Linked DNA regions of Homo sapiens: all the other regions are linked to region 2. Evidence: fine-mapped expression QTL. A gene starts in region 2. Each other region holds a variant in brackets. All regions are shown on one strand. Distances are between the middles of the regions.

Region 1 (6,491 bases), 23 kb after region 2:
AGAGATGGGGTTTTGCCAGGTTGGCCAGGCTGTTCTCGAACTCCTGACCTCAGGTGATCCACCCGCCTCGGCCTCCCAAAGTGCTGGGATTATAGGTGTGAGGCACCATGCCCGGCCAAATTTTTTTTATTTTTGAGAAGAATACTAGGACTTTCAGAGACAGGCTTACCACACTTGATTGAATGGTGCATCAGAGACTGCCCCACGTATACCTTGTTATTTTTATTTAGTGTTTAGTAGATATCCCAAGATATTTAGAGATTGAATACAATCCTCAGCCGTCACTGTTCTGGAGGGTTTTGTCATCGCAGTACTACCATCATCTCCCCTATCCTTTGTTGCTATTGAGGTTTATGTGTTTTGCTTAATTTTTCAGCCTTGTCTTTGGCCATGATGTTTACCTTCAGATTCATCACCACCCTTCTGGTTCACATTTTCATTTCATTGGTTATTTTGGGATTGTTGTGTAAGTATTTCTCTACTTGACTGATTTCTTTTCGATTAAATGAAAAGCCTTTACATTAAGTACAGAACTTAAAAGTTGGCATTTTTAAGCTACATGGAGTCTTAAAGAGTATCTAGCCCTGTCACTTTACAAATGAGAAAACTTGGCCTCAGGGAGGACGATGGGAGTTGCTATGTCTCACAGACAGTGCAAAGTTAATGACCAATCTTTTTTTTCTTCTTTCTTTTCTTTTCTTTTTCTTTTTCCTTTTTTTTTTTTTTTTTTTTTTTTGAGGCAGGCTCTCACTTTGTTGCCCAGGCTGGAGTGCAATGGCGCGAACGCAGCTCACTATAGCCTCAACCTCCTGGGCTCAAGCGATCCCCCTGTCTCAGCCCCCCAGGTAGCTGGAATTACAGGCACATGCCACTACACCCAGCTAATTTTTGTATTTTTTGTAGAGACGGGGTTTTGCCATGTTGCCCAGTCTGGTCTCCAACTCCTGAGCTCAAGCGATCCGCCCACCTTGGCCTCCCAAAGTGCTGGGATTACAGGTATGAGTCACCACGTCCAGCCATATCTGTAGTTTCTTCTGCTGTGCTATGCTGCCCCTGAGATGAGCTTTCCAATACCGTGATCCTGTATCCATAACGTTAAAAGAGAATCCCAGTACCCACTGGGAGCATTTTAAAGGATTTCTTCTGAATGCGCACCTCACCCATTGGCACGTGGGTGCCCACAGTTGTCATGTAAAGGTTCTGACCAGCCAGAAGACACACAGGCCTGCATGGAAGCAGAGTCCTGGAGACCCTGTACTGTGCCCATATTTCCCTCCCGGTTGCTGGATTGTGGATCTCACCAGCAGTTGTTGGGAAAGAGGTCCGAGGGACAAGGGCACGCAGGAGGCTCAAGGCAGCAGCCATTTACCAACTGGTGTGGGGTACAATCAGGTGTCACTTAATGACAGGAAGGGATGTGTTCTGAGAAATGCATCACTCAGCAATTTCCTCATTGTGTGAACATCACAGGGTGCACTTACACAAACCTAGATGGTAGAGCCTACTACACACCCAGGCACATGGTATAACCTATTACTCCTAGGCTACGAACCTGCACAGCATGCTACTGTACAGAATACGGTTGGCAGCTGTAACAGAATGGTCAGTATTTGTGTATCTAAACACATCTAAGCACAGAAAAGTACAGTATTATTAATCTCATGAACCACCATCATATATGCAGTCCATTGTTGATCAAAATGTCATCATGCAGTGGATGACTATATTTTAATTTTTAAAAACTGATGTGATTGTCATGTTTCTTTCCCCTGAGTCATCAGCTCTGCCCTCAGCAACTTAGAGCCCTGTAGCCCTGTGTCGGAGGACAGGCACAATGACTTCTGAGGGTTGTTTCTTCCTGTCCACTCCAACCTTCCTATAGTTACTGTGGATATGGCATAAGGTGGTATTTCGTACCTAAATGTGGAGTACTTGCAATGTCAGGGCATCTTCCAAATGAGCTTCTGACTTCCATGATTCCCACAGGCCGTGTAAATTTTCCTGGTTTTGTGGGTGAGCAGCCAATATCCAGGCTCCACAGGAGTTATCACCACCAGAGCTTGCTTAAAACATTTAGACAGTGAGCTCTGGCATTGTCCCTCTCACCATCCTGTCCATGGGGTTTTCCTCCTGCTCGCATCCAGACCCAACCTGTGGGTTAGGTGCCTGTGTTCTGGGGTCACCATCCTGGGTCTCCCAAAACAAGCATCATCCCAGAACTTGTGGGTCCTCTATGGGTTGCCCTGGCTCTGCCCAGCTTCTCCAGAGGGCAGCAGTTGCTTGTAGGGTCCGGGTATTTGGGACCCACTGCCAGAGCAGTGCCACGCGGCCGGTGGGCAGTGGCTGGACTTCCTGTGTGATTCTGTGTGCTGGGGAAAGGTTACCTCATGGCGTGTGCCCTGAGCTCTGCTACTGTTCTCTTTTCTAGTTGTCTGCGGTGTTTTATGGTGGCTGTATTATGACTATACCAACGACCTCAGCATAGAATTGGACACAGAAAGGGAAAATATGAAGTGCGTGCTGGGGTTTGCTATCGTATCCACAGGCATCACGGTAAGAAATGCTCTTCTAGCAGTAGGTCAGGTAGCCAGCCAGGACTCTGAAATCCAAATCATTGAATTCTAGCCAAAAACAACTATAATTTGTTTTTCTTTTGATTTAGAATGTGCCTTCTTTGGATTTGAGATACCTGTATAGGGATAATTCAAAACTCTTCAAAAATAAGAAAAAAAGGTTTTAGTTCTTCCCAAGTCATTTCTGCCACCTCCCAGAGACTACTGTGTTATCCTTGCTGTTGCACTGTTCTCAGCCCCAAGGGGCTACAAGGTGGGCATGGTGGGTGGGCG[G/A]AGGCAGGCTTACGGCAGTTCCCATTCCCTGTTTGTGAGGTGCGGCTCCCCTTTGCCAGTGTATGCTCAGCTTCCGCTGCCCTCTAGCACACAGAGCCCTTTGTTTCCAAACCCGCTGGCCACTGGGTTATTTTGGTGTTCAGAGAACTTGCTGCCTCCTCAGTGAACTCTCTAGCTGAAAACAGGCTGACTTAGAATATTGAGGGAGCAGGTATTAGTTACTGGTGGTGGGTGGTTGGCAACCAAATGTCATTCAGGACCCTCTCCAGGGGCCGTTAGGAAGGCTCAAATCACAAGGCCCTGGGGCGGACCCCACACTGGCTTCAGGTCCCCCAGAGTCGTCGTTGCTGGTGTGTTGCTTACTGACTGTTCTGTGGAGCAGCTGCAGCCAGGGGTTTCCACAAGCCCATTGAATCTTGCAGCAAATGCAGATTCTCACACCAACAAAATTCTCTCATAGGAAATCCTTCTATTCTCATATTTGGTAGTTTTCACATTTTCTCCTTTCCACGGTGAGGTTTTGGGTTTGTGATCTTCACATAAAATGTGCCAGGGAGTAAGGGTACAATAAAGTAAAGCACCTGGTTGCTCTCGCCTCAGGCAGGGACCAGACCAGACACTCAACAGAGTCTGCAGAGGAGGCTGGAGATGAAAGGGCTTCCCCATTCCCCAGGCTGGGCATAGGGGAAGAGGAGCAGGGCTGGGGGCTGGGGAGGGTCCAGTTCCTCCGTCTACCCTCCACAGGGCTCCCTTTTTGTTTGTACACTGCACCATTTATGCCACCCAGATTTCAGGGCCGGGGCAAGGTTAGGGAGAGGGGAGGCCATGTGAGCAGGGAGGCTGTTTTCACCTGGGTCCATGAGTTCTGCACAGGGGCTACTCTATAAGGCAGAATTGAGTCCCAGCTCACCTCCCGTTCATTTGTTGTGAGTTCTTACCAATTCCCGGTTGCTAGATGAGCTAGTTCACTCATCCTCAGAAAAGCCCAGATGGAAGTTCCTCCTCAGCCTTTACAACTGAAGGGTCTCCTCTGGGTGTCTTGCGGGGCCTCTCCTGACACCTCTCCCTGCATGGTCAGGAGGCTGTGCTCCCAGATCCTGGAGCAGCTTCTGCAGTTTATCCACTGTCACTGTCTTTCCTCCACTTGACTGTTGACGGCAGAAACGCTCCAGCAAAGCTGGAAGAGAAAGAGCATCTCAGGCCAAGGGCACAGCATGCATGAGGTCACATGGGCAGGGGTGTGACTTGCAGGAAGTTCCCTTGATGGAAGCCTGAGATGCAGGTGCAGGGAGGGTCATGTCACAAAGGTCCTGATCTGCAATGATGATAGGTTTGATCTTTCTCCAGAGGCACTGGGGTGCCGTAGATGGATTTTGAGCCGAGAAACACCATCTTTGTGTTTGCGCTTTACAAAGGTCCCCTTAGCTGTGGAGTGGAGGAGGGACTGAGGTGGGGCGGGGTGGGGGGGGTGGTCAGGGAGGTTAAATGCAGAAAGCTAATGAGGTTATTGGGGTCTAGAAGAAAGAGGCTGAGACTTGAGCTGTGGCATCAGCGGTGGAAACAGAGAGGAAAGGAAGGCATGAGCGGTATTGAGGAAACTGAACCAGAGGTGATTGAGACTGTACTGGGCACTTTGCCAGTCCTTGACCATAAGAATGGCCCTGCTCTCTAGGAGCCTAATCTAATGGGAAATTCAGACGAGAAAACATTTATAGAATATGTTAAATAGTACAATAGGGTAAGTGTGGAATAAAATGGGAGCACACAAGAGGGGAACCTAACTTACTCTTGGAAAGTCTAGAAAAATTAGGGCCACTGGAGGTAAAGAATACAGGGGGAAGAGGAGGTTCTAGTATGAAGATAATGAATTTGATTCAGGATAAATTGAGTCTGACATACTGTAGGACATCCACGGCCTTGTCAATAACTGATGTGCTTATTCTTCCAGCACCTAGAGGAAAGTGAGGCTGGAGGTTTTTATTTGGAGGTTGTCAGCATCTAGGAAGGATGCTGAAAGCACAGAGGAATAGGAGATACCCCCAGAAGATCTCAAGAAGCAGCAATTAAAGAAGTAGGAGAGCTAAAAGAAAGATCATGGAAGCCAAGGGAGGAAAATGTTTCGAGAAAAGAGGAGTGGACAAGGGATCTAATGCTATGCTGAAGTCAAGCAAGACCTGGAATGTTTCCATGGCATTTAACATTCAGGAGGTCACATGAAGTGACTTCAGAGAGAGCTGTTTCAAAAGAGTGTTGGGATCTGGATGTTTGTGGGTGGTTGAAGAATGAGTTGGGGTATGGAAATACAGATGATGGGTGTAGACAAGCCAAGAAGCTCGGCCATGAAAACAGTAAGAGACGGCAGTGGCTGGATGGGGATGGAGGGGTGCAGAATGGTTTGTTTCATTAATATGAGATTTGTAAATGTTTATATGCAGGGAGGGAAAGCTAGAAGAAGGCACAGAAGGTGGCTTTGAGTCTTTTTGCCTCATACTCATATTCCCTTGACTTTTGCAATATCTTGGGTTCTGTGGGATGTGGAGGGGAGGATATAAGACAGTTCCTTGACATTAGAAGACCTTATTCTCATTTTATCTTTTTCACTGACCAGACTACAAGGCCCTTTATGGAGGGACTGTGTCTTCTTCGCTATTATGTCTATTAAGATCTATTCCAGGGACCAGCACTTACTAGATGCTCAGTTAGTGTTTGCGAATGCATCTGTAAAATTATAACAAAGTAGTGAGTAACTATCTTAAAAGAGCTGTTTGCTGAGATGTCATAATAATAGTAGGGCTTGCTTTAAGCTCTACCCAGTTCTCCATTATTTGGAAGTAATTTACTCAAATCCCTTTCTCACCAGGCAGTGCTGCTCGTCTTGATTTTTGTTCTCAGAAAGAGAATAAAATTGACAGTTGAGCTTTTCCAAATCACAAATAAAGCCATCAGCAGTGCTCCCTTCCTGCTGTTCCAGCCACTGTGGACATTTGCCATCCTCATTTTCTTCTGGGTCCTCTGGGTGGCTGTGCTGCTGAGCCTGGGAACTGCAGGTAAGGGACAGTGGGTGTGGGTTCCATCACCTTGGAGTCATACACAGAAGACCATTTTGGAACCACTGGCCTGTTTCTGTAGGCACCTAACCCCTCATTGAGCCAGAGGTGTCTGATGACAGCAGCGTTGGTGCTTGGGGCTCTGTCATGGGGAAAAGTGGGAAGTTCTTTTACCTCTTCTATATTGGTTTTAAAGAAGCTGGGTTTGTGTTTCATGAGAGAATAAATTCAGTAAGGACTGAAAGCTCTAGGAAAAACTACAATATGAACAAAGGCCAACAGCAAGAATATTACCAGATGTCTCCAGGTATGAGTTTTATCCAAGGTAATTTGCCAACCCCTATCAAATCAGTAGGTGACAAAGAAGAACCCAGGAAAGACTCTATTAAAAATATATTGTGCAGCCGGGTGCTATGGCTCATGCCTGTAATCCCAGCACTTTGGTAGGCCAAGGCAGGTAGACCACGAGGTCAGGAGTTTGAGACCAGCCTGACCAACATGGTGAAACCCCGTCTGTACTAAAAATACAAAAATTAGCTGGGCGTGGTGGCGTGCACCTGTAATCCCAGCTGCTGGGGAGGCTGAGGCAGGATAATTG
Region 2 (6,207 bases):
TAAATGCTAATCTCATCCAGAAACACACTCACAGAAATACCCAGAATAATGTTTGACCAAATATCTGGATACCCTATGGCTGACCTATTCAAAATAATACATAAAATTAACCATCATAATTGGTTGAAAGGTACAGGTCCCACCCATATCTGAAGAAGGGAACTACATAAGGGTGTAAACACCAGGAGGTGGAAATCATAGGGGCCTTAAAATCTGTCCACCACACATACTGTTATTCATTACTTCTAATTTTATTGCACTGTGAAATTTATTGAGCCTCCCTTTAAGATCTAATACACAGTTTATGTTTTTACTTTAATGTTTCACATGTACCTGAAAAGAGAAAGGACATGTATTCACTGTTTGATGGAAACGTATATGAGTTATAAATATCTAATGGCTCAAGTTTATTAATTAAATTGTACAGACCTTGTATATTTGCTTTCTGTGTGTATGTGTGTTGGGAGAGGAGAGGAAGTATCTACTGTCTACTTGATCTATTGGATACTGAGAGGAGCCAGTTAAAAATCTCCAACTATAATTCTGATTTATCTGTTTCTGCCTAAATTTCTGTTAGCTGCTGCTTAATAAATATTAAAGCTGTATTGTTGGGCACATTTATGACCTCCCTTATGAACTTTCTATCTTAAGTTTTATTTTGTCAGGTTTTAAAATTACTACATGAGCTTTCTTTGGTTCACATTTGCACTATATCCTTTTCAAGCCTTTTAACCTTTTAGTGTCTGTTTTACACAAGTTTCTTGTAGAAAACATATTGCTGAATCCCTTGCTTTCATTCAATTTGAAAGACTGTTTTTCTTAATTGGTTAGTTTAAGCCACTTACATTTATTGTAATTGCTGCTCTATTTAGGAGGCAGCATAGAATAGCTCTAAGTATGGTTCTAAGTATGGGTTCTAGATCCAGACCACCTGGGTTCAGGCCTTGGTTCTGCCACTTTCTAGCAAGTTAGTTAATCTCAGTTTCATCATCTATAAAATGAGGATGATGAAAGTAATAGTACCTTCCTCATAAGGTTATTATGAGGATCAAATAAGAAACACCCAGAAAAGTATCTGGAACATATTAGGTACACTGAAAGTAAAAATTATTATTAGTAATTTTATTTCTGCTATCAAATTTCATATATTCTAATTATTGCACTTTCTTTTTATTCCTTTTTCCTCTGCTCTCTTGCCTTTCATTTGATAAAATTTTCTTCCACTGCTTTAAAAGTTACATGTTTTATTCTTTTTTAACGGTAGTTACCCTTAAGACCTACATTCACAAATATTTATCCCTATTGATTTATTAAAGTTAACAATTTTTTTCGTCTTCCTCCCATATGATAGTAATTTAACCCAGTACTACTCTAAGTACTCTAAGTAGTACTGGGTTACTTATCTCATCCATTCCAGAATGAGATTTGAGCCCACATGTAAATCAACACACAGCTTCCTTCATTGAGAAAGTCTTGCTACGAAAGTGTCAGCTGAATCAAAGAGTTTGCTTATGACATAGCTGATATGCATTCTGGTACAAGCTCCTTATCTCTTAGAGAACAATTAAGTTTTGTGAACCACCCTTTGAATGGCACTATTTTAGATCACTGTCCTATCATTTTGGCCTCTCATTCCTGAGTCCCACACCCCTCACAATATTGATATTGTCTATAATTTTAGGTCTGAATCATTATAAATACACTGTTCTTTGTTTTTAGACTTTTGAAAAGAGTTTTTGTAAGTCAGGTTTAATGAAATACAGTTTACATACAATAAAATTCACCTTTTCTAGTGTACAGTTCTACAAATTTTGACAAACAGATACCACTGGGTCATCAGTACCATTCTCAAGATAATGGAATATTTCCATCACTTCAGAAAGTTTCTCCAGATTCCCTTCACCCCCAGCACCTGACAACCATTGATCTATTTTCTGCCTTTTCCAGAATGTCACATAAATGGAATCATAGAGTAGCTTATTATATCTGACTTTTTTTCACTTAACATGCATTTGAGATCATCCATGTTTTTGCATATGTAAGAAGTCTGTTCCTTCTTAATGCTTAGTTGTATTTCATCGTATAGATGCATCACAGTTATGTATAGCCACCCACCAGTTCCTGGACACTTGGGTGGTTCCTGGTCTTTTTTCTAACACAACAATAAATTCAGCCTAAATATTTGGCCACTCTCATGCTATATCTATTGTATCATCTCCTGAATTTGTTTCTCTTCTTGCTTGATTATGTCCTCCAAGAATGTCATTCAAATGAATCTTTCATAAGAATATTTTTATTATTAATACATTCTCACATTCTAATGACAATATGGCTTAATAGAAAATAAGTTCAAAGTTATGCTTTTAAATACTTACATATAGAAACATTTTGCTTGAGATAAACCTTTTCAATCTGAAGGTTTTTTTCTACCTTGAAATTTATCTCCATTATATCTTCAAATATTTCCCCTTCTCTGTTTTTATATTTCTTCCTTTCTGTTCTAGTTTTACCCTAGATATAAGCTAGAAAATTTACAAATAAGCTAACTTGTTTTTTAAAACATTTTCTACTGCCTCTGGAGGTTTGCTGAAAGTGCTCTTCCAATTACTAATTCATCGTCAGCTGCATCTTTTAGACTATTGCACATTACTAATACGTAGCATCAATATTCATTCTAATTATTATTTTTATGCTTAATATGTTTTAGTTTCATATTTTTTCCTGATTCATATTGCTAATATCATAACTCATTTTAAATAAATTTATCATGCTTATTTAAAAATCTTGGTCCATCTGCTCTACTGATCAGTTTCAGATGGCATATGTTATTCAGTTGTGGTCTTTTAACAGTAGTTGCACTCCTCCAGTGTCTAATTCTTTGTCCTATGAATTCATGTTCCCCTGGGGTTTCACCTACTCTGTCTGATAAACATGCATCCAGGAAGGCCCAGTGAGTTTGCAGTGGGAGGGTGGTGTGAGCCCAGAAGGAAATCGCTGGCACCAGAGAACCACTGTCTATCATTCCCAGTTTCTCCCACTTACCCAGATCTTTCCTCCAGTCAGGTTTCTACCCTTAGGGAGAAGCAGCACCTAAAGGAAGCAATTAACCTAGCAACCCTAAGGGTGGCAGGGGGAAGGGTAGAGGCTTGATTGAGAGGAGGTGGGGGGAGGTCGGCCTGCAGTTTTTTTTGTTTTTCGTTTTTTAAATTCCTCACCCCAACAGTGCTTTTGCGCTGGTCTGACACTACCTGGAAAACTATGCCACCAGTCGCTTCAGTGGACACTACCATTTCAATTGCGAAGTCAGGCAATGATTGTCCTAAGGCAAGGTGGGAGAGAAGTCAGAGTAAACCACCTCGAGAGCGCCGGTCTCCCGGAGTGTCTGGGTTCGACTCCTGCCTCCACAACTTACTGGGTCTCCTCGAACAAGTTGCATCACCAATGGCCGTGCCTCAGTTTCCCTCCTCCGTAGATTAGGAATAACAATAGCAGTGAGAACAGAATCCAGCACACAGTAAATGCTGCTTACCTGTTTGCTATGTGGAATACGCCACTACACTGTTGCTCGGCCCTCAGGAAGGGTCTGCTGAGACTTTCTACTTCCTGCTCAGGGCAGAGGCCGACCACCCGCCCAAGGTCGTGGCGGCGCCGGCTCAGCTTTAGTCGTCAAAGTGCACATCCTGGGAGCCGCTGCCTCGAGGTGGTTGAGGCGAGAGGGCAGGGAAGCGTCTGAGCCTCTTCCTCCCACCAGAGCAGGACCCCAGCTGACAGCGGGTGAGCTGGGCAGAAACCCATGCCGGGAAGAGGCGGACCCAGTGGACCGCAGCGCCCGCAGTCGCCGGGCCAGGCGCAGAGGCGAACGGGAGGCGGCGCTGCACCGTGCCCGCCCCTCCCCGGCCCGGCCCCGGCTCCAGCCCCAGCCCCAGCCCCAGCCCCGGCCCCGGCCCCGGCTCGCGGGCGCTGCGTCTCCGCGTACAGGAGGCGGCGGCGGCTCCCAGTCACCGGCCCCCGCCGGCGAGCGCACGATGCACTGCCTGGGCGCCGAGTACCTGGTAAGCGCTCGCAGCCTCGGCCCTCGGGGGAGGAGCCCCGGGGAAGGGTCGAGTCCCCCGCCTTCACGCACCTTCCCTGCCGGACGCTTCCGCCTTTCCCGCGCCTCGGGGATCCCGCCCCCGCTTAGTACCTTGGGGCCACCTGGCGGGGAGGAACCTGGACCCTGCTCCAGTGCTGGGGCGGAGGCGGGGGAGACGCGGGCCGCGGGGCGCAAACTTGGGGTCGTCCTCAGGTGCACCTCCAGGTAAGCACTTGGCGGCAGGGGGCTTAACATCCGCTCCGCGCAGAGCAGGTGTTTCAAAGGCTGTGTGAAAGAGCTTCAGGTGGCCACGTAAAAAAATAATATTAATTTTAAAAATTTAGAAAAAGATTGGTTACTTTGGCCCCTCTTCGAGTAGATTTGGGTTCGGTTTCCAGGTTGAGTCCACCTGTTTATCTTCTTTTTCTCAACTCTCCCTTTTTCTGGAAGGTTTCTGCAGAAGGAGCCCCTAGGCAAAGGGAGTGGCGACCCCAGATTTATAGGAAATGCACAGATACGGCATGGTTATTCCTGTTCTTTCTCTTTTGGACTGGTTTGGTAAGTGTGGGTGCTTGGTAGGAAAGAGGCCAGAGTGTGTGTGCACGTCTGGAAATAACTCTGTCCCAAATGTAAATCGTAGTTGGTGCTGCAGTGAGAGACTTCTGCCGTTAACCCACAATAAACATCAGTTTGTACTCGGGAGAATTCTTGTCCTAGACTCGCTAGAAAGGCTGTCTTTTTGCTACAGGCCATGTTCTAAGGGGTGACTCCATTAGGAAATGGGAATTAACAGTTTGCAATGTGATTGCTATTTAGTAAGGCCAATGTGTCTCCTTTTACTCTCCGAACTTACTGAACAGAAGTTCTTTTAGCACCTGCCACACCCCCAAATCAAATATTCCTCAAGCTTTTGGTGCACCTTTAACAAAGGAAAAGCCAGGGTAAGCCTAGAAATAAACTGCATTTCCTTTAGCTGAACATCACACACACACGCGCGCGAGAGATATGTTGTGTTTAGCAGCCAACACTGTTAACCATAGCTAACAAGGAATGATTTTTCCCACTCTAATTTCGAGGTATGTATGATTGCTGGTAAACTCCATCAGGCTATGCGGTTATAATCCTGAGAGAGTCTGTTGGAAGCCGAATCTTGCTGCTTTTATACTTATTTTAGAATTGTAGGTAACAGCAGAAAACGTCTCACCCGACATTTTCAAAGGCCACTTTCACGAAATCATCCATGCCAGGATAAGGCATGCTATTTGCTGCATGGTAAATGATTAATTTATAGAGCAGGGTAATAACTACCAGATAGTAATTACCTTTGTTGAAAAGAATTCCATCTGAATAGGCCCTAAAATATCATGTTTGTTCTTTCCAAGTAAGAAAGGCATTTGTTCACTTATGACCCGTTTCACATAGACAGGCTTGGTTACAGGCACAGTGGAAGGTTAGGTCTGAAACACATAATCAGATGTTTTTTGTTGCTTACGTTGGAACTCTCCCCTAGGAGCTGGGAGAGACAGTGCACCTACAATACCTTCTGCTTAACTTCGCAGATGGTTGGTGTTTTTATCTGAGACTGCTGTTGTATAAATGCAGGGAGCAGCTGGCCTGCCTTGTGCCTGGCAGCTTTGACCTCAAGCTGTTATTGTGATTTAATGATCTGCCGTAGCCCCTCCACAGCTTCAACCTAGGACCTCACTACCAAACTCTCAGCCCAACAGCTGAGAATCCTGGGGAAAATCTTTGTAGATGACCTATCACAGCCTGAAGAATTGTGAACCAGCTGAGAGGTGGCACGGAGCTGGAAACTGCTTTAAAATTACATTTCATTTGCAAAATAAGTCTGAAGTTTTAATATATCCAAGTTCTCACTATGGCATTCTGTTTTAAGAGTCAGAGTCCTTTCTTAGCTCACTGGCTTTTAGTGTCTTTTGCAACATTTTTTATTTGCAGGTATTTAAAACAGAGCAAGGAGTGTTTTGTTTTTGGACTTTTTTTTCTGCCTCTGTTGTTCAGCTTTCAGGTCTTGTGACAGATGTCCTGACTGGTGATGGTGTGCCCTGAGTTAGGGCTGGACAAAGGCTTGGGGGAAGGAGCTGAAATTATAAGCAGAGATGGTTCTTGCAAAT
Region 3 (6,491 bases), 49 kb before region 2:
GAGAGCCTGGATTCCAGGCCACTGCTGCCAACACTGTGATCCTAAACATGCTCCTTAACCTTTCTTGGCCCCTACATTTCCTTTTCTATAAAACAAAAGGTCATGAGATCCCTTCTAGCTGGAGAGGCTATTTCTGGCTACCTAGAGTTGTCACTTCTGGGCAAACCTGGTATTGCTGCCCTCTTTGTTGTTTCCATTTTTTATTTCCCTCCTCCCTCCTTTTTTTCCACAGAGTACCTACTATGATCTCAGAACAGTCCCTGCCCTCAAGCACTTCTCCACCTAGTAGAGGACATAGCAATGATAATTATTATAATCATTATTATTTTAATGAGAATAAACACTAAAATGCTAACTGCCAATATTTACTGGGCTCCCACTATAAGCCAGGTATTATGCTAAGTGCTTTTCATGCAACAGCTCATTTAATTTAATTCTTGCAATACCCCTAAGAGGGATGAACTGTTATTCTACCAGTTTGTGTTTCAGGGAAGTCAAGTGATGCACCTCAAAGCCCATAGCTCTTGCCTGATAGAGCCTTTTGAACAAATAAAAAATCACAGTGCCACACGACAAGTGCTATCATACTGGCATGCACAAAAAGCAGTGAGCAGCTACCAAGAAGGAGAAAAAAAGATCCCTCCCTACATGAATCTGGAAAGACTCTTTGAAGAGGTATCATTGAAGAATAAGAGTAACTTTACCTGATGCAGAAGAATCTCATTGCAAGATTAGATTAACCCGTAACTTAGAAAGTGATGAAGAAATAATAAGTATCACTGTTTTCTAATAATATTACAGTAAAGGAGATGACTTGGGTTTTCATCTGGCTATGTGTTAATGTGGATGATGCACGTTTTTTCACAACATGCACGCATACAAAGATACCCACTTCATGGTTTCAATTATTGCTTCATTTCCTCCTTTGTGCTAAGTGATGCTGCCTATTTGTTGAAAGGGTACAAGAGTTCTCTTGTAGTCTTCTGCCTGCCCTTCCCCAATTTTCCAGTCTATGGGTTTGTTAATCATGTGGTGATTTTCCAGGACAAGAACTTGAAAGTACTCTACTTAAGATACGTTATAGAATAGATCAGGGAAAACCCCTTCACTTTCTAGGAACATTAACAGCTGCGTGAAGGCCTCAGAGAACTGTTCCCTCATTTAATTTCTGGCTTTGACTTATACCTAGCCACATATTTCAGAGTTTAAAAGTGTGGAAATGTGATGTTTTTCTGCTGAATATTCATGTCTTCTTTAGATAATAGGAACTCAGTTTTTCCTGGGGAACCACTTTTCCCCCAGTCTCAGTCCAAGGGCTTGAGAGTGGTTACCCCCGTCCTAGGCCTGGCCAATCAAGGTAATAGTCATGATCCATTCTGGGCTGCAAAGCATCAGCCTTGGAACTTTGCTTGGTCTTCTTTGCAGCAAATCTAGTGAGATATGAGCTTGGTACTACAGGTGCCCATCATTGCCACAGTTGAGTAGAGTCTACCGAAAATGAGGCTAACACAAGCAGCCTCCTGTGTGGACAGAGAGAAAGCAATGAAAGGCATTAACAAGCCTGAGCAGAAACACACTGTATTAGCCTCGTTCACTGCCAGAGGGGCCCCTGAAGGGGACACAGTGACACAGTATCTACTGATACTGCCCTTATTCAAGAGGTCAGTGCTGTCCTTCACCCCTACCTCATTCCCTACACCCTGGCTAGAATCTCATAACTCCTCCAACAACTTAAAATCACTCTCTCACCTTTGTGTTAGATTTCTGTTTCCAACTCTGCCCCTGTCCCCTGCCAAGACCCACCAGCCTCATGGCAGAGACATCTCTTCATGTCCCAGCAAGTACATCTGTGTGGTCAGTCAGGAACCCTCTCAGGGCCAGTTGCAGCCCTTCCATCACCAGGTGACCCTATCTTATGACCAGAGAGCCTTAGACTTTCCACCTTCCCTTGAGGCCCCACGGTCTTCATGCCAAAGAATAAGGTGCCAGGCTTCTCCCTGGACATCCATGGCCTCAATACTAGTGCTGTCTGAGACTACTGGCTCCTCACACCAACCCCCAATCTGCAGAAAAGCAGGTTGGGATGTCTGAATGAGTCTACATGAAGGATATTCCTTCAAATGTGCATCAGCGTGCATGAGGCTGTTTGTTCTGTAAGATAGCCCAGCCATATCCCAGAGCTGATTAAACAACAATTATGCCACAAATATTATACCCAACATTATGATCTTCTAGGATAATACCCTGATTGTCTCTGAACCTCACTGAATGTCATGGTTGCTGGTGACCCACTGTGATGTTTCTGGGCCACATTCTATGTAGCTAAATTGTTTGGGATATTAACATACCTGGAAGGACCTTTCCCCAGTCCATTAAAAATCCTCTAGTCTTTTTAGGCCACTTAAGGAAGGGTCATAGCTAGCATGGTATGGTCTACAAACTTCAAGTCTACATTCCTGACATGACACCACCCTTCCTGGTAGGAACCAGCCACAAGAAGAAAGGCCACTCAGGTTTCCTAGCAATGCCTTATTTTGGACACATTCCAAGACAGCCACAGTCAAACCAAAGTTTCGGGCAGGTCTCAACTAAGACTGGTTTGTATTTCCAAAGTCACTTATAAGCCAAGTCCTGGGACCCAGAATGTATTTTCCCATGGAAACAGTGACATAGACTATAACAAAGTCATCATGCCAAGCCACAAGTGCCTACAGCTATCATGGTGCCAAGAGCACTATTTCAATAACTCCCAATCACTTTATGTAACATTGCTTCCATAGGAAAGCTCCAATTGAGTTTCAATCTCCAATGCAGGATTCTAGGAACACATTTCCAAGCCCCCACATTCATCTTGGCAGCATGAGAGAATTACCTCTTTTGATCAAACGTTCATTCATTCCCACAAATACTTATTGAAACTCTATTTTTCATGAGCCACTGCTCTAGGTGCTGGGGATACAACAGTGAACAAAAGTCACCCACAAAGTTCTGAAGTGGAAACACAA[A/G]GTGATCTGATACCATATTGGCCAGCATAATGAAGGGAGGGTCATCTTACTGTTTCTTCCACAATGGCCAGTGAGTTCCACAGGTGAATTTCCATTTTCACCCTAGAATACAGAAATGCAGACTCTTGGTTTCCTAGCTTAACAATGATAAATCTAGTCTTCACTTTGCATTCTATTTTTCAAATTTAGCTGTTGACACTCAAATTGATTAGAAGAAAATCATCAAGATAAGACACATTCTCTCTTCTTCCATGTGGCAAAAAAGGACCCTGGGGACACATTGAGTCTTAACTGAGCTTGACAGGCTTCCTTGGAAATTTTGAAGGGTTTGGGGAGAAGGGGAGGAGGGTAATGCCCCCATGCCAATGGAACCACCAGACCAGTGGATTTCCAGTCAAACCAGATGGCAAGAAAGGAGCTGCATTCTTCTGCTTCCCAGCTGCTCTTGGAGACTCTTCCAGGTAAGTTAATCTGGAATCTGTTTACCTCTCTAACATTTGCTTACTTCCGTAGCACACTGAGAATTCTGCTGCCAAATTGACTGTAGATTGGAGTTTGCACACTTCACTCTTTACTACCACTCATGTATTCACCCAGAGCACTTAAAGACTTCCCAAATTTAAAGGGATGTTTTCTAATTTTCAAGTACTTATTGTCCCTTATAAAGTGATCTTGTAAGGTTTTTTTCCCCCTTCTTGGTCTATGTTTAATGGTTTTTTGTGATTGAAGCAATGGGGAACAACTCTTCCTTACAGCGAAGAAAACAAACTCCAAGAGTAGTAAATCTTCATGAGACTTATTCCTTCTCCTTTTCCTTCTTAATAGGTTTATTTATCTGGATTAAAACTCACATTAAGCTTTTTTTGGAGGGTATTTGCAAAAGGCCTACACTAATAACAAGTGACTTTCCAATGGCATTATTAGATTATGAGCTTCCTTGGAACAGGGAGTATCTTTAGTTCTGCTGAAGAGTGCAGGATGAAAGTTAGACAAAAAATAATAATAATAATAACACATTTAACAGTTATGCAGATATTGCTCAAAAACTGGCTTTTACTAGCAGGGTGGCACATTTCTCTATTGACCTGATATCAGAAAAAGCAAAGCAGTCTTTTAAAGATTCAGACAAAATGTTTCTGGAATACATCTGTTGAAGAACATGGGAGAGGATAATTATATTAGTTGTATTAGGAAATAATAAATTCGACCTGCAAATATATAGAGTATTTAAAAATTCTTTCTTGATAACTTTTATTCCCATGGAGAGTAATTTTCCCAAATCCACTGAAATGAGTTCACATAACTCAATGTTTGTAAATAGCATCCCTCTGATCTCCTACAGAGCAAGTGGAACTGTATTCCAACCCCAGGGCCAGAAACTTGAGACCATGTGCCAGTCCATGGCACCAGAGTCCGGTCTGTCCCCATCTCTATGGCCACTGGTGCAAACATCAAGAGGAGAAGTGGAGGTGGATGGGCCTCCTCTTCTTTTTTTACCCTCCCATGGGGATGGGATGTAAAAGTGGGACCAGAAGAAGACAGAAATAAACAAGTGTTCTCCTGTTCCCTTTAGGAGTCTGAACATGGAAAATAGAGGCCCAGAACCTGCCAGAAGACAGCAGTTTCTGGCAGACATCCAGGAAAGCCCTCTTGTTGTGTCTTCAAAGGCAAAGTGTCACCTTTTCTGGTCTGCAGGGCTTATAGTCAATTTGACTCCATGCTTTGCCACTTTCTAGCTGTGCGACTTTGGAAAAGCAACTGAGCCTCACTCTTTTCCTTTATAAAATTCAGAATAATATAAATTTTACCACTTAAGGCCAAGGATTGAATGAATTAACATTTGTACAGCATAATAGAGGCACCATATATGTGGCACATAGTAAGCATGCCAGAAAGAGTAACTAGTATTGGGTTTTCCTTACATAAAATTACAAAGCCTATACTTTATTCCCCAGGTTGGAGAAGACGCTTTTCCATTTAAGCCCAAGAGATGCAGAGATTCAGCAGTTTATTGGCAATGTTTTGTACATGGCGTGATGGTCAGTAAGAGAATTCTAGCCTCTATTCAAAGTGTTAGACTCTGAAAACAAGTTTGGCTAGTTCTTTCTGTTCAAGAATGAATGACATCACTACCTCAGTCCTTGAAAACCAAATGAGAGAGTCATGGAGGGTGCTTAGCAGAGTTTCCCCACACATTTCTAGAGCATTTCCCGCAAGCTGACATTTCAACCCCAAGCAAATAAAAAGTTAGGCAACACTTTCCTTAAGTACCTTCTACAGAAAGAACACTGTGCTCTAGTTACAAAGCCATGAATGGTTGGGGAAACGGATGCAGTAAAGCATCCAAGGCTAGGCCGGGCACAGTGGCTCACGCCTGTAATTGCAGCACTTTGGGAGGCCAAGGTGGGTTAATCACCTGAGGTCAGGAGTATGAGAGCAGGCTGGCCAACAGGGCAAAACCCTGTCTCTACTAAAAATACAAAAGTTAGCCAGGCATGGTGGTGCACACCTGTAGGCCCAGCTATTTGGGAGGCTGAGGCAGGAGAATCACCTGAACCCTGGAGGCAGAGGTTGCAGTGAGCTGAGATCGCACCATTGCACTCCAGCCTGGGAGACAGAGCGAGACTCAAAAAAATAAAAAATAAATAATAAAAAAAGAACACCCAGGGCTAGATGTAAAGATGGAGCCAGTGTGGATTGAGCCCTGAGCTGGGCATCAGAAGAGCCTGGATCCTTGGCTCATCCCCTCCCCTTAATAGCTGCATGATCTCAAGTATGGCAATCGATGTCCCTAGGCCTGTGTGCTCAAGTGTACAACGCAGGAAGTGAATCTGAAGGTTTTTTCTAATTTGTGGTCTCAGTTAAGAAGAAAAAAAGGAAACATGAAAATATGTGAGATAAAATAACAGAGCAATACTCACTGCATCATAAATCCGGAGGTGGCTAGGCTGGACCAAAGGGGACATCAGGTAGAAAGTTAAAGTGTCTGTTTTTCCCAATTAAGTTTGTTTAAATGATTTAAATCCTTGAACTACACACTTTCCTAAGCTGATAGGAAGGAACTAGTACTGAGTACATTCGCTCACTGGGGCATAAATCTGAGCTGCTGGTGAAGGTTGGAAACTCTGGCATGTGAACCTATCAGAAGCCTTCGTAAGGAAATAGCCACTGATGAGTTCGTTGTGACAGAGGGCTGCAAAACCCTGAGACAGCCTGAGTTAGGAAAGAGGCTTCACCTCCCAGGAGAAAGCAAAATGATCTCATGGAAACCCAGGACTTACTGATAATCACCTGTAAATGAAGCTCTGCCTACGCGTCACTTTGCAAGGAGAATCAATGTCAACATAAGCAGACCCGCCTTGAGGGAAAACAAGGCAGGCTGCTGTACTGAGGAACAGGCTGAACTGGGGTGTGCCTCTCCCATGCCTGCTGCCCAGCAGTCCACCCTAAAGATAAACCAGCCCCAACTGGCTAAGACCTTATTCC
Region 4 (6,491 bases), 42 kb after region 2:
TGAGAGAGAAACATGAGCTTCATTGGGAGAGACTATCTGCCAGGGGTGATTCCTGCCATTGAGCAGTTTCCTCCTGATGATAAGGAGCACTGTCGGGTGTTTGTTTGTTTGTTTGTTTGTTTGTTTGTTTATTGAGACGGAGTCTTGCTCTGTCGCCCAGGCTGGAGTGTAGCGGCACGATCTTGGCTCACTGCAACCTCTGCTTCCTGGGTTCAAGTGATTCTCCTGCCTCAGTCTCCCGAGTAGCTGGGACTACAGGCGCCCACCACCACGCCTGGCTAATTTTTGTATTTTTAGCAGAGCTGGGGTTTCACCATGTTGGCCAGGATGGTCTCGATCTCTTGACCTTGTGATCCACCCGCCTAGTCCTCCCAAAGTGCTGGGAATTACAGGATGAGCCACGACACCCGGCCACCACTGTGGGTTTTTAATGTAGTGGTGCAGTTCCGGAGCCTCCATCATTAGAGACTCCAGAGGACTCACAGAGGGGCTGTTGCCCTTGGCATTGAGAACCTCCAAGCAGCCGGGGGTGGGTTGTGTGTATTGCTTCCTCCCAGGTAGGGGAGCAAAGAGAGTATTCTAACCAAATTTGCCAGCAGGTAATATTTGCCTGACAGTAATTTTGTGTTATCTTAGAATAACAAAATCAAAGCATTTTCAATGAGGACTTCTAATTTGGACTTCCAGTGAAGCATATGCATTTATCTCCTAATCTCTTCCCTTTCTCCAGCCACTCAAAAAATCATGAAAGATTGAAACAGGCACAAACACACCAGGACAGTAAGAAACAGAGAGGCAATGACAGCAGATAAGAAACACCAACCAAATGGTGAGAGCCAAAGAGAGGGAGGTGGAGCAGTGCCCTAAGCCCGCTGGAGAAAGCAGAAGCAGCCTGTCCGTGTGTGTTGGCTGCATGAGGAGGACAAATAAGATGCAGCCTGAAGTGAGCCACAGAATCCCAGAGAGGCTCAGGAATTCAAGTATAAAAAGTATTTCCAAAGATTAGCTGAAAGCCTTCCTCAGGAGTAGTTAGACCCCCAAATTCCACACCAGCTGAAGACAGGAAAATTTGTTCTCCAGAGAGGGAAAGCAGAGAGGGCCTGGACTTGGGGTATCAGGTACAGCTGAGGCTGGGGGCAAGTCTCTGTACTGAAAGCAGGGGGAGTAAGTGAAAGCCTAAACACTGAAATGAGGTCCCCCACATACACCAGCACCCCACATTCCACAGTTCAGCTCCCAGAATGTTGGCAGCTCATTTGATATTCCCTAGGAAGAGGTTAGAGGATGCTTTTGTGGAGAAACTGCCTAACCCAAAGTAAAGACCTACAGATAGTGCCATATGGGGTCCCCCAATGAAATGGATTCCCTGACTCCTAGCAAAACAGTGAAGCTCATCAGACAACAAGCAACATGCCTCACACAGAGCTTCCAGGTCATTCTGGAGAGCCTCACTCTTCAATTTGAACTGTTTACCAGTGATTATTAAACATGATGAATGCCTCTAAGTGAAAGAAGAGATCAAAATGAACAAATAAAATGAGCTTAGGGAAAACGGAGACAATGCAGGCTGCAAAAGGAAACAACAAAGCAAACTATAATATTATCAGAGAGAACAAAGATGTATTGCTAGGATCCCCTCCCACCAACAAAAGAAGGGCATAGTGAGAAAACAAGACTCTTGAGTAATTAAAAGTATGATTACAAAAGTGAACATTTTCTATTGAAGGATTAAAATATAAAGTGGAAGCACTCTTTCAGAAGGTAGAATAAAAAGACAAAGAGACACAAAATAAGAGAGAAAGGATTAAAAGAGGATAAATTTGGGAGACCCACTATCTGATTAATATGAGCCCAGAAATACAGAACAAAGAAAAGAAGAAAGAGAGGAAATTAACAAAGAAAATTTGCCAGGGCTGGAGGACACAAGTAAAAAGAAGATTCCAGAAGCTTCCCGAGGGAAAAAAGATCACAGGCAAAGGATCAAGGACCCAGAATAGGATCTGACTTTCACCAGCAACTCTGAACCAGAAAAACAGTGAAGGAAGGCTGTAGAAGTCTAGTGAAAGATTATTTCCAACCTAGAATTGTATAGCCAGTCTATACCTAGTATAGAGTTGTATACCTATTCTTACTACCAGTCAAGGGTAAAGAAGAACAAAGTCATGCACAGGCAGTCCCAAGATTTCCCTGCCCTCATCCTTTCTAGCAGGGATGTTCCCCACTGAAACTCATGTGTAAGCCAGAGAGGAAAACATGAGTTTCAGAAAACAGGCTTGAGCAGAGCAGAGCAAGGAATTCCCAGGAGGGTAGCTGCGCAGCAGGCGTGGAAAGCGTCCAGTCCAAGGTAGACAATGGGCTCCAGGAGAGATGTCACCATGAAAAGAAAATGGAACTGAGGGAATACCAGGTGTGTTCGAACACGTTAAGAAAAGCATTACACGTTGGTGAAGCGTTCGGTGAGGCCCATGGAAATCCAAGCTAATAAAAAAATGTGAAACAATTAACTTCAGAAAAAAAAAGTTGTACAGGAAGGGAATCTAATTGGAATATGCTACTTAGATCAGTTGTGAATATTATTTACAGCACATATTATTTATGTATGAATAACAAACACTAAGCATTAACTAAAAGCTTTGATGTAATTACATTGGAAGAATGGGAACATGAGTGTGAGGAGATTGGGGGAGTTAGGCTATGTAAGAAAATAAAACCAGAATCTTTCATAGTAGAAAAGTCAGTAGACAATATCTGAAGCCAAAAAACCAAGAAATAGCAGTAAGAACATGTAATTTTGAGGTGTGGAAGTGAGTTCTCTAATAACAACTAAAATATTATCTCAGGGAGAGAGAATTATGAATGGGGGAAGAAAACTGCTGTTTTTCCTATTAAGCCTAGCAGTGATTTTTGGCTTTGTAAGACACTTTACATATTACTTTGATTAAAAAAAATTAATTTATAATATAACACACAATGATTTATTTTTAGCACAACTATTGCATTTATTAAAGAGCTCTGCTTCCTTTTTGATTTTCTGCCTAATTTTGAAACCTCAAGATTTTTCCTAATCTTCAAAGTTCACAATTCTTCGTATCCTTTTCTGGCCTGCACTCAGGGTGAGGATTAAATATAGCCAGGGTGCATTCATCTTTGTCATTCATTTATGCACTACGAGGGCTGAAGAGTTCATACAAATACCATCAGGTACCAGGATATGGGCAATCTGTAGAATTTACTTTTTACAACCATTTGCTTGAAGAAGGATCAACTGAGAGCCATAAAGGTGGTGTTAGGGATGTGATAGGAAGGAGCTAGAACCCTTCAGGGTGGTGGAGGGACACTTGAGGTGTGACTTCATCATCATTTTCAAATATACAAAAGAGGGTTTCCAGCTGCTCTATATCTACAGATGGAGAAGAGGAAATGGATTCATAGCAGAGCCTAAGGAATTTAGGTAGAGATAGATGAATTTCCTAACCTAGCAAGAGTTACCCAGGCCAGCTAAAGAATCCTCTTCTTTCTAATAAAGA[C/T]GATTTTCATTTTCTGTAGAATAGGAAAGAAACATACAACCTTCTCAGCCCTCCAAACCCCATCTTGCAGTGATTTTGTTGTAAGAAATACTGGAAGAGACATGGTCTCTACAGGGACCACACAGTCCTTTGCTGGGACCAGCTTTACGTTGGAGGCCATTTGTCCCATGCAGCCCACACCTAGTCCAGGAGCCTCAGCACAAAATTAATTCTCCATAATGTCAGAAGAGTTTTTAGTGAGCACGAGGCTGGATCTAACTAGAGCCAAAGCTTGTCTCTAGGACCATGATGCGGCTTGCCTGGCTGTATGCACTCTGTTGTCTGATGGGAGTAGAAATTACAAAACAGTACTTTGTACCATGACCCAAAGGTGTTAGAGGACTTGGATGGATGGGACCATTAAACCCTTTGCCCCACAGCTTGGATTGATGTGGTATTTTGGGCAACTGGCTTCGTTGTTCTGGGAGCCAGGCACCATTAGCACTCAAAGCAGCCACACATCCAAAGGAAGGGGGAAGCTGGGCTTCATGGGGCATATGCTAGAGTCGCCTTACCCTCTAACACTGCCCGTGTCTTCCTTATTGCCACTACCCACAGAATTGGGGTGGATGTGGTCCAGTGGGAAGATCTAGAGAGAGATGAGGAAGGCTGACTGGGGGCCCAGTCCTCCCCAGCCTCCTAATACACTCATCGCTGGGTTGCCCCATATGCTCAACACTGGAATGTTGTCCCCCAGGTCAATTCTTAAAATATGAATAAGTCCAGAGGTAAGTATTATATTTAGCATCACTGGGTGTGTCAGATCCTCTTCCTGAAGGCAGGTTTGGCTGGTTGTGAGGGAGACAGAGCTGGAGGCACTAGCCCCACACACAGCAGGGGAGAGGTGGTAGGATGACGTTACCTTTGAACATGGAAATGAGTCTGAGACTAGGTGGGGGCCTCAGAGACACACCACTTCATTAGCCTTTTTTTTCTGTAGGGCTGTTTCTAGTTTTGAGGGCAGGTATTGAGTGACTCCTGGCTCCAAGAGCTGGCTTGGGTTGAAAGGGCCCTCTTTTTAAGTTCCGTCTCCCATCACGTGATAACCCAGCTTCTGGAACCTCTGCATCTTCTTCCAGCCAAGCCAGGCAGAGCCTCCAGCCATAACCAGGATGTGTTACAGACTAGGGAAGCTGAGGCAGTGCAGGTACTCCTCTGCCTGAAGTGGTTAACCCCATCACAGTGAAACCTCAGAAAGCTGATGCCTAACCCCAAACTCTAATACCTGGAGGGCTAACCCCAAGGCCCTCATTCACAGAGGCCTATGAATCATGTGTTTCCCTACCAGATGGAAAGCAGGTGTTGTCCTCTTCTCCCTGCCTCCCCTCTTGAGCACCATAATAAGTTCTAAGGCACACAAATCTCCTCAATGGAAAAGTAAACGTTCTTCCTTAAAAAAAAAGAAAAATGAGGGAAGGGAAAAAAAAGTGTGTCAGATTTTCCTGGCCTACACTACTCTTCTAGTTTATCAGATCTAAATGAATTCCTATTAGCAATAGCTTCCGTGGTTTTTCCTACTTTAAATAACACTGTGTTGAAACACACATCCTTTTTTTTTGTGGGACAACTGGGTTGCAGTTTTTCAGCTCCCAATATTACTTTCATGTTCTCTTTTTCTTCCTGGCTGATTTGAGTAACAGCAAAATGCAGCCATTGCCAACTCTTGAAACATTTCTGGCTGCCTTCCTTTTCCTCTCTCAAAACCTAGGCTGCTGTCAAAACCTTAATTCATAGTGACTTATTAGCAACCAGAGCAAGTTGTAGAATAATCCATTATAAAGAAACCAAGCTTCACTTGGAATCTGTGAAGTTGCTTCTCAGAAAGACCTTATTTTCTAGAACTGGCTTCAGCGGGAATTCAAAGGGTCACCCGTGGGGTGGCATCAGCCCCCACTCCTTTGTTTTATCTTTCAGGGTTAGGGGAGAGTGATGGCTGTGCCCATTCTGTTCTTTCTCACTTTTTTTTCCCTGCCTGTGAAACTGACTTGTACACATTCTTGGGAGCTGCGTCATGACAAGTCCCGTAAATGATTCACACTGAAGTGACCTTTAAAGAGCAGAGTAGAAACCAGCAGGATTTGGGGAGCCTAGAGCTGTGTAGGAGCCAAGCACCCAGGGCTTTCTGTCCCTTTCCTGTAAGTGGGAGCTCACTATTACCTCTCTGGCCACTGATCCTGGTCATGTGATTTGGTGATGATTTTTAATCACCAGGTGAATGCTGGCAATATTTATGTATACTCCTGTGTAAGTTAAACCTTGGAGATTGTGCCGCAATTAAAATTCTGAAAGTGAAAATGAGATGAATAGGCACCCTAAAGGGTTGGTGGATGGGCTCTGCATTATGAAGAGGGAAACTTTTTTAACTCATCAATTTTTTTAAATTTTTTCTGTTTTATTTGTAGCATTAAGTGGCACCAAAACGAATTAAATTAATACAAGAAACAATTTAACCGAAGCTACCAAGGAGTATAAAAAGTTCGCCAAATGCTTATTATGTCACAACTTTCTAAGTTGTTAGTACCACAGATGATTGGAACCAGAGAGCTTTTGCTGCTTTATAAAAAGTGTTTTTAAAATGCTATCCTTTTCCCTATTTCCAGAAGTAAAAATGATCCTCCTGATCATCCCATCCTTTCGTCTCTCTCCATTCTCTTCTTCTACCATCAAGGAACCGTTGTGAAAGGGTCATTTTTAATCTCTGTGGTGAGGATTCCGAGAATCATTGTCATGTACATGCAAAACGCACTGAAAGAACAGGTAAGGCTACCTCCTGATACACAGCACGTTCTGTGTTTGGGTTGCCAGAAACTTAATTACTGGAAAACTACAGCAGGTCCCAGGACAGAAATGTGACCTGTGACAGCGGGCCGTGCAGAAAGCTCCTGCACTCCTCAGCTCCCATCCCCCGCCTCTCCCAGCAAAACT
Region 5 (6,491 bases), 140 kb after region 2:
TTTTTAGGGGAGACAGGATTTCACCATCTTGGCCATATGGTCTCAAACTCCTGGGCTCAAGCCATCTGCCTTCCTTGGCTTCACAAAGTGCTGGTTCACAGGAGTGAGCCACCACGCCTGGCCTGGATTGAAAACTTTAGACTGAGGTTTAGGTACTTTTGTTGGGTTCAACCTTCAGTAATTCCTCTAGGCTAGGGTTCAATCCCAGTAACCAAGCTCACCAGTCCTTGCTCCCAAATATAACTGCTACTTTTCTCTTTTTTTTTTCAAGCTGAACCTCAAAAAGTTAGCCTGGCGAGGGGAGGATGATGAGATTTCCCCTGTTGTCACATAAACAAGGAAGTAAAGGGGGCCCCTTGTGCTCTCAGAACTCCAAGCATGAAACGATGTGAGTCTAAGCATTTAAATCACTTATCTGGGATGAAGCATAAAAAGCTTGATTTTTTTTTTTTTAAACCAATTAGGTTTTAGCCTCCATGATACATTTTGGGGCCTGTGGTTATCACTGCAATTACACTTCAATTCATGCATTGGATACTTTGAAAAGGTTTAATAAACAATAAGAATATCAGCTGCCATTTATATTTATGCTTCTAGCACTGTCCCAGGGGCTTTAATATGGTACCTATAACCCTTCCAATTATTCTCATTTTAGAGTAGAGATAACTAAGACACAGGGAGGTGAAAAAAATAAGCAAACAAAAAAACCTGCCCAAGGACACACGACAGGTCAGAGGTTAAAAAAAAAAAATTAGCTGGGCGTGGTGGCGCACGCCTGTGATCTCAGCTACTCTAGAGGCTAAGGCAGGGTTCACACTCCCGGCTCTTGGTTTACCGAAGTTCTCATTTATTCCACTATCTCATAAGAAAAATGAAGCAAATCAAGTCACACTTTAAATCGACTGAGGAGATTTTGCTGTAGAAAGGAATCTGGTAAATCCCTTCATCAAGTAAATAATCCTTTGTGTGTAAATCTGGACTTATATAAAGTATATGTTTTTTGGCATGGTTAAGGTGAGCTACCATGTTCCTTTCCGGAAAGTAAAGATGATTTAAGGAATATGAAGGAGGCCTTTGTTCATTCCTTTGATGGATATTTATTCAGTGCTCCTCTGTGGGAATGCTAAGATGAGAAAAGCAGACGGTCCCTGTCTTCAGGGAGCATATCATTTTTCACTACCCCTTGTTATTGGGTTGCTAAAAAAGAGAATGTCTATTTTATTTGTGGAAGTAAGTCAGTAGTTTAAAAAACTTTTATTTTCTTTTCTGCTTATCGCAGTAATACATCTCATTAAAAAGTGTAAAAAAACCAAACATTATAAGAATGTATAATACAAAAAGTTAGTTTTCAGTATTGCCAGCCCCAAAGAAACAACCACGGTTATAGATGAAAATTTTAACCCTTAAAACTCTTTCTCCAGAGGAGAAACAGAGAATACCATCTAGTAATTTCCCTATCCTGGCTCCTGCAGTACCTTCAGGACTTGGAGATTTTTTTTTTTTTTTTTTTTTTTTTTTTTTACTGGGCGGCTCCTGACCTTGGGGAAAACAGAAACACAGCTGAAAGTAAATATGGAACAAAACTCTGGCCATGGGGCCTGAGAAAGGCTTTTTTCCACTGCCTTTTAAATGTATTTTCATGAAAAGACACCAAAGACATTTAAAGTTAGGATTGTTCTAGAAAATCCAGGATAGATAGCCACCAGATGTCTATGGGGAATCAGGGCACACCACAGTAAACACTCAATAGATATTTGCTGGAGGGAGGAATGAAGACTGTACTTATATTTAGAAAATTAAAACAACCCTGAAGTACATGCTGGATTTTACAGGTTTTCGATTTATCTCCTCCTCTTTTTTTTTTTTTTTCCCCATGCAGAGCAAAGGGAAAAACAGCTAAGTGTTTCCTGGCTGAATTTTATTTTGCTTTCAGTTTCTGCCATTTCAGTTCCTGTTATCGTGCTTTGAGGTGCACTGAACTGCAGCAAACCCAGGGGATCCAAGGCTACGTTGAAAAGCCTTTGACCACAGTGCAGGGAGCAGAAGACATTAATGACGTGATGTCGACACAGCCCGCACTCAGGATCCTCCAGGAAAAGAACACAGAGATAACCCCGGATCGATGGTACTTTTTGAAAATGCTTTATTGCAAAAGAGTGGCTAGGGTTTTACAAGGGCTATGAAGAAACATATTAAGGTTAATAAAGCTTTTTATTGAGTGTTTACTGAGTGTTACTATGTGCTTTACATCTATTAACTCATTTCATCTTCAAAACAACCCTATAAAGATGTTACAACTATAATCCTAACCTTACAAATGAAACAACTGAGGCACAGTGAAGTGCAGTGGCCTGCCCAGGTAAAAAGCAAGACAGAATTTGAACCCAGGCAGCCTGACCCCAGGGTCCAGGTATTAAACCATTCTGCTATAGTGCCTCTAAGATAACAGAGAAACTTGATGAATTACTGGGTTACTGAATTTTAGTTTACATAGGTTGTTTTTTTCCCCTTAAGAGTAGAACAAAACATACCTGAAGTATGGAAAATAACATTTATTTTATTTTATTTATTTATTTGAGATGGAGTCTTGCTCTGTCACCAGGCTGGAGTGCAATGGTGCGATCTAGGCTCACTGAAACCTCCGCCTCCCAGGTTCAAGCAATTCTCCTGCCTCAGCCTCCCGAGTAGCTGTGATTACCGGCATGCGCCACCACGCCCAGCTAATTTTTGTATTTTTAGTAAAGACAGGGTTTCACCATGTTGGCCAAGCTGGTCTCGAACTCCTGACCTCAGGTGATCCACCTGCCTCGGCCTCCCAAAGTGCTGGGATTACAGGCGTGAGCCACTGCGCCCAGCCAAAAATAACATTTAGAAAAGTTTTTAGCCTTGGAGCCCTGGAGGCAGAGGCCGCAGTGAGCGGTGATTACGCCTAGGCACTCCAGCCTAGGTGACAGAGCAAGACTCTGTCTCATAACAAATGACTTCCGATGGGACAGCCCAATGGGAGCTATAGAAAACCAATGGGAAGTAAAATTGGATGACTTATGCCCTTGACTGCAGGAATGCAATCACCGTGGGTAATGGGAGGATAAATACGAGAATGGAGGCAGGGATTTAAGCCCTGCCATCCATGTTTACTAGCTGCAATTAACCCTGGGAGTTTCTTAGCCTCCAGAGTGGGCTTCCCTCTGAGTTGTGGGTTGGCCCCAAAGATGCCAAAATTTATTCCAGTTATAAGTTATATTTTAACCAAATTTCTGGTCTCCATTTTTCCTTGGAGAATCACACAAGAAAGGAAATAAGACTGAGTTTC[C/T]CCAAAAATAAAATTATGTCATTTTTCTTTTCTTTTGAATTCCATTGATAAGCTAAGTGTAGAAAATAGTCCACTGCTAGTGTCAAACTTGTAGATGAGAAGCACAGCACATCAAACAAAAACCTCAAGGTGTAAGAGTCTTTTTTTTTTTAATCAAAATTATGCAAATAACACATGAGGCTGGACGTGGTGGCTAACGCCTGTAATCCCAGCACTTTGGGAGGCTGAGGCCGGGCAGATCATGAGGTCGGGAGTTTGAGACCAGCCTGACCAACATGGTGAAACCCAGTCTCTACTAAAAATACAAAAATTAGCCAGGCGTGGTGGTGCACACCTGTAATCTCAACTACTTGAGAGGCTGAGGCAGGAGAATCACTTGAACCCAGGAGGTGGAGGTTGCAGTGAGCTGAGACCGTGCCATTGCACTCCAGCCTGGGCAACAGAGGGAGACTCCGTCTCAAAGAAAAAAGAAAAAAGAAAAAAATAACAGATAATAACCTGATCAGGGAGAAAATTCAAATGTATAGAAACCCATGTTCAAAAAAGTTAGAGTTCTTCATTTCCTTAATTTTATCTCCTCCACGGGGTAAGTATAAATTTAAGTGAAGAAAATGATTTTAATAAAGTCAATTTAAAAAATTAGCTTCTGCTCTGAAAACCAGAATGACAAAATTTAGCCTTAGTTTGTGTTCTTGTTGTCATTTATTCATTGATAGGCGGTATCTCTTTAGCTCTCATGGTAGTCAAGCTGTTATCTGAGTTTCAGGTACTATAAATGTGCTTTAATTGTGTAGTTTTTTTTTTTTGTTTTTTTTTTTTTTAGAGACAGGGTCTCATTCTATTGCCCAGGCTGGAGTGCAGTGGCATGATCATAGCTCACTGCAGCCTTGAACTCCTGGGCTCAGGCTATCTTCCTTCCTCAGGTTCCAGGGTAGCTGAAACTACAGGTGCACACCACCACTCCTGGCTATTTTTTAAAATTTTTTGTAGAGATAGGGTCTCACTATGTCGTCCAGGGTGGTTTTGAATTCCTGGCCTCAAGTGATCCTCGCACTTCAGCCTCTCAAAGTGCTGGGATTTCAGATGCTACCATGCTCGGCCTGTGTATTCTTTAATAGATCTGCATGATAATTCAAAAGTCAATTGTTCTCTCTTTAGTGCTTTGGGTAAAATGCAGTGGAGTGGAAAGTCGGCCTAGGAGCTAGAATGCCTTAGTTTTAGTTAGGGCTTTTGTGACCAGCCACCTGTGTCTTGGAGTATCTTTGGTCCTGTGTCCTCACCTGCTAAAAATATAAGTGAGGTGTCCAGTTATAGACCTTCTATCTCTAAATTCTGTGTTTTCACATCCGAGGTTTTTTTTTTTTTGTTGTTGTTGTTGTTGTTTTGAGATGGCCTGGCCTGTTGCCCAGGCTGGAGTGCAGTGGCATGATCTCGTCTCACTGCAACCTCCACCTCCTGGGTTCAAGCGATTCTCCTGCCTCAGCCTCCTGAGTAGCTGGGATCACAGGCACACACCACCACACCCGGCTAATTTTTGTATTTTTAGTAGAGATGGGGTTCTACCGTGTTGGCTAGGCTGGTTTCGAACTCCTGGCCTCAGGTGATCTGCCCCCCTCGGCTTCCCAAAGTGCTGGGATTACAGGTGTGAGCCACCGCACCTGGCCTCACATCTGAGTTAGTAACTTCTGTTGGTGGTACTCAAAGAAGAAGAAAAATATCTAATTTATTTTTCTTTTGCTGACTGCAAGCAGAATTAGCTTATTTGTGCTTTGGCAAACTACTACTCCTATGGTTCTGTCTTTTGTTTCAACCCCATAATGGCTATTTTGTATCTCAAACTTATATTCACATGATTACATCTGATTTATTTTGCATGTCAGTCTAACCACTAAGCATATGTCATCACGTTACTTAATTTATAACAGAACATAAATTTGCTGTGTTGGCTCCTTTAGTTAAAATAGAATCTAGTAATTTACAGTCACCCACAAAGTAATTCACAGTGAAGAATACTAAATAACAATTAACAATGGCCAAGAGGCTCAGGAGAGAAAAAAATTCAAGGCAGATTTCTGTTAAAAAAAAAAAAAACCATTTTCTTAAAAAAAAAATCTACTATCTTGTTTTCTATCTTTTTTTCTGGCATTCCGCTGTCCACAGAGACAGGTTTTTGTTTTTTGTTTTGTTTTTTTATTTTTGAGACGGAGTCTCGCTCTGTCACCCAGGCTGGAGTGCAGTGGAGTGATCTCAGCTCACTGCAACCTCTGCCTCCCGGGTTCAAGCTATTCTCCTGCCTCAGCCTCCTGAGTAGCTGGGACTACAAGTGCGTGCCACCACACTCCGCTAATTTTTTTTTTTTTTTGTATTTTTAGTAGAGACGGGGTTTCACTGTGTTAGCCAGGATGGTCTCAGTTTCCTGACCTTGTGATCTGCCTGCCTCGGCCTCCCAAAGTGCTGGGATTACAGGCATGAGCCACCGCACCCGGCCACCAGAGACAGTTTTATACTCTTCATTTTTGGAAGAGCCCCTCTCTAAAAAGCCTCAGAATCTTTTAGTATCTTTCTGCAGGGGGAGAGGGGAAGGTATACAGAGAATCTAATGAAATCTATAGCTGTCTTCCAGAAAATACATAGATACACGTAAATCCCCAAAGTCATAGCCATTTCCATGGACTCCAGTTTAAGAATCCCTGGCTTAGAAGTTGGGGAAAACAAGATCCAAAAATGTTGGACATATGATTACTGACTATATTATACAGCAAACAATGGTATAAGCCAGAGCCTTAGTATTCCAAAATATTTAATATATAATTTGGATAGGGAGTAAATTAACTCCTATTTACAATCCAGTAAATTTATGAAAAATATCATGTTAACAGGTTTGGTTAAACAAATCTGGGTTTGAGACCACTGTGCCGCTCTCCAGAACAGTAGCAGAAAAATGTAAGGAAATCCTTCCATTGTTACTGACTCGTTTCCTTTTCAGAACTGGAATATACCTTTTAACATGCATTGCCTTATACTTAAATCTATACATTCAGCATTCTTATATAAGTCACGACTCTTTCTTTCTTTCTTTGTTTGCAATAGAAAAGTCCCTAAGAAAACAAGGATTCATGTGGTAGCCCTTGGATACTTTAATTATGTGACTAGACAATAGAGGGAACAACAAATTCAT

Direction of the effects. Alleles are on the strand shown, and positions count from the first base shown. SD is a standard deviation of normalised expression in the study named. Not every link is listed here.
In carriers of allele T in region 5, the expression in breast of the gene that starts at base 3,931 in region 2 tends to be lower than with C alone (small effect, 0.13 SD a copy in GTEx).

What was found. PIP is the estimated chance that this variant, and not a neighbour inherited with it, causes the effect.
Region 1: its variant is the best candidate, but not a certain one, in a credible set for the expression of SLC44A3 in sigmoid colon (GTEx, PIP 0.83).
Region 3: its variant is the best candidate, but not a certain one, in a credible set for the expression of SLC44A3 in blood mononuclear cells (TOPMed, PIP 0.69).
Region 4: its variant is the best candidate, but not a certain one, in a credible set for the expression of SLC44A3 in thyroid (GTEx, PIP 0.81).
Region 5: its variant is the best candidate, but not a certain one, in a credible set for the expression of SLC44A3 in breast (GTEx, PIP 0.79).

What each region holds. Positions count from the first base shown.
Region 1 is chr1:94,839,572-94,846,062 of GRCh38, forward strand. SLC44A3 (solute carrier family 44 member 3) reads left to right here. Exons shown (of 15, transcript NM_001114106.3): 7 at 377-466; 8 at 2,429-2,553; 9 at 5,707-5,893. Among named protein-coding and RNA genes, the nearest start is that of SLC44A3, 22 kb to the left of the region's middle. The variant G/A (reference allele first, on the strand shown) is at 2,847.
Region 2 is chr1:94,816,427-94,822,633 of GRCh38, forward strand. SLC44A3 (solute carrier family 44 member 3) reads left to right here and starts at 3,931. Exons shown (of 15, transcript NM_001114106.3): 1 at 3,931-4,052; 2 at 4,523-4,630. The coding sequence starts at 4,026. SLC44A3-AS1 (SLC44A3 antisense RNA 1) reads right to left here and starts at 3,806. Exons shown (of 6, transcript NR_160780.1): 1 at 3,530-3,806. RefSeq lists a silencer at 3,935-4,124.
Region 3 is chr1:94,767,207-94,773,697 of GRCh38, forward strand. The region is part of intron 1 of SLC44A3-AS1 (SLC44A3 antisense RNA 1); the gene reads right to left. Among named protein-coding and RNA genes, the nearest start is that of MIR378G, 25 kb to the left of the region's middle. The variant A/G (reference allele first, on the strand shown) is at 3,006.
Region 4 is chr1:94,858,577-94,865,067 of GRCh38, forward strand. It overlaps SLC44A3 (solute carrier family 44 member 3), which reads left to right. Exons shown (of 15, transcript NM_001114106.3): 11 at 6,167-6,323. Among named protein-coding and RNA genes, the nearest start is that of SLC44A3, 41 kb to the left of the region's middle. The variant C/T (reference allele first, on the strand shown) is at 3,528.
Region 5 is chr1:94,961,046-94,967,536 of GRCh38, forward strand. CNN3-DT (CNN3 divergent transcript) reads left to right here. Exons shown (of 3, transcript NR_168377.1): 3 at 1,934-2,225. Among named protein-coding and RNA genes, the nearest start is that of CNN3, 37 kb to the left of the region's middle. The variant C/T (reference allele first, on the strand shown) is at 3,314.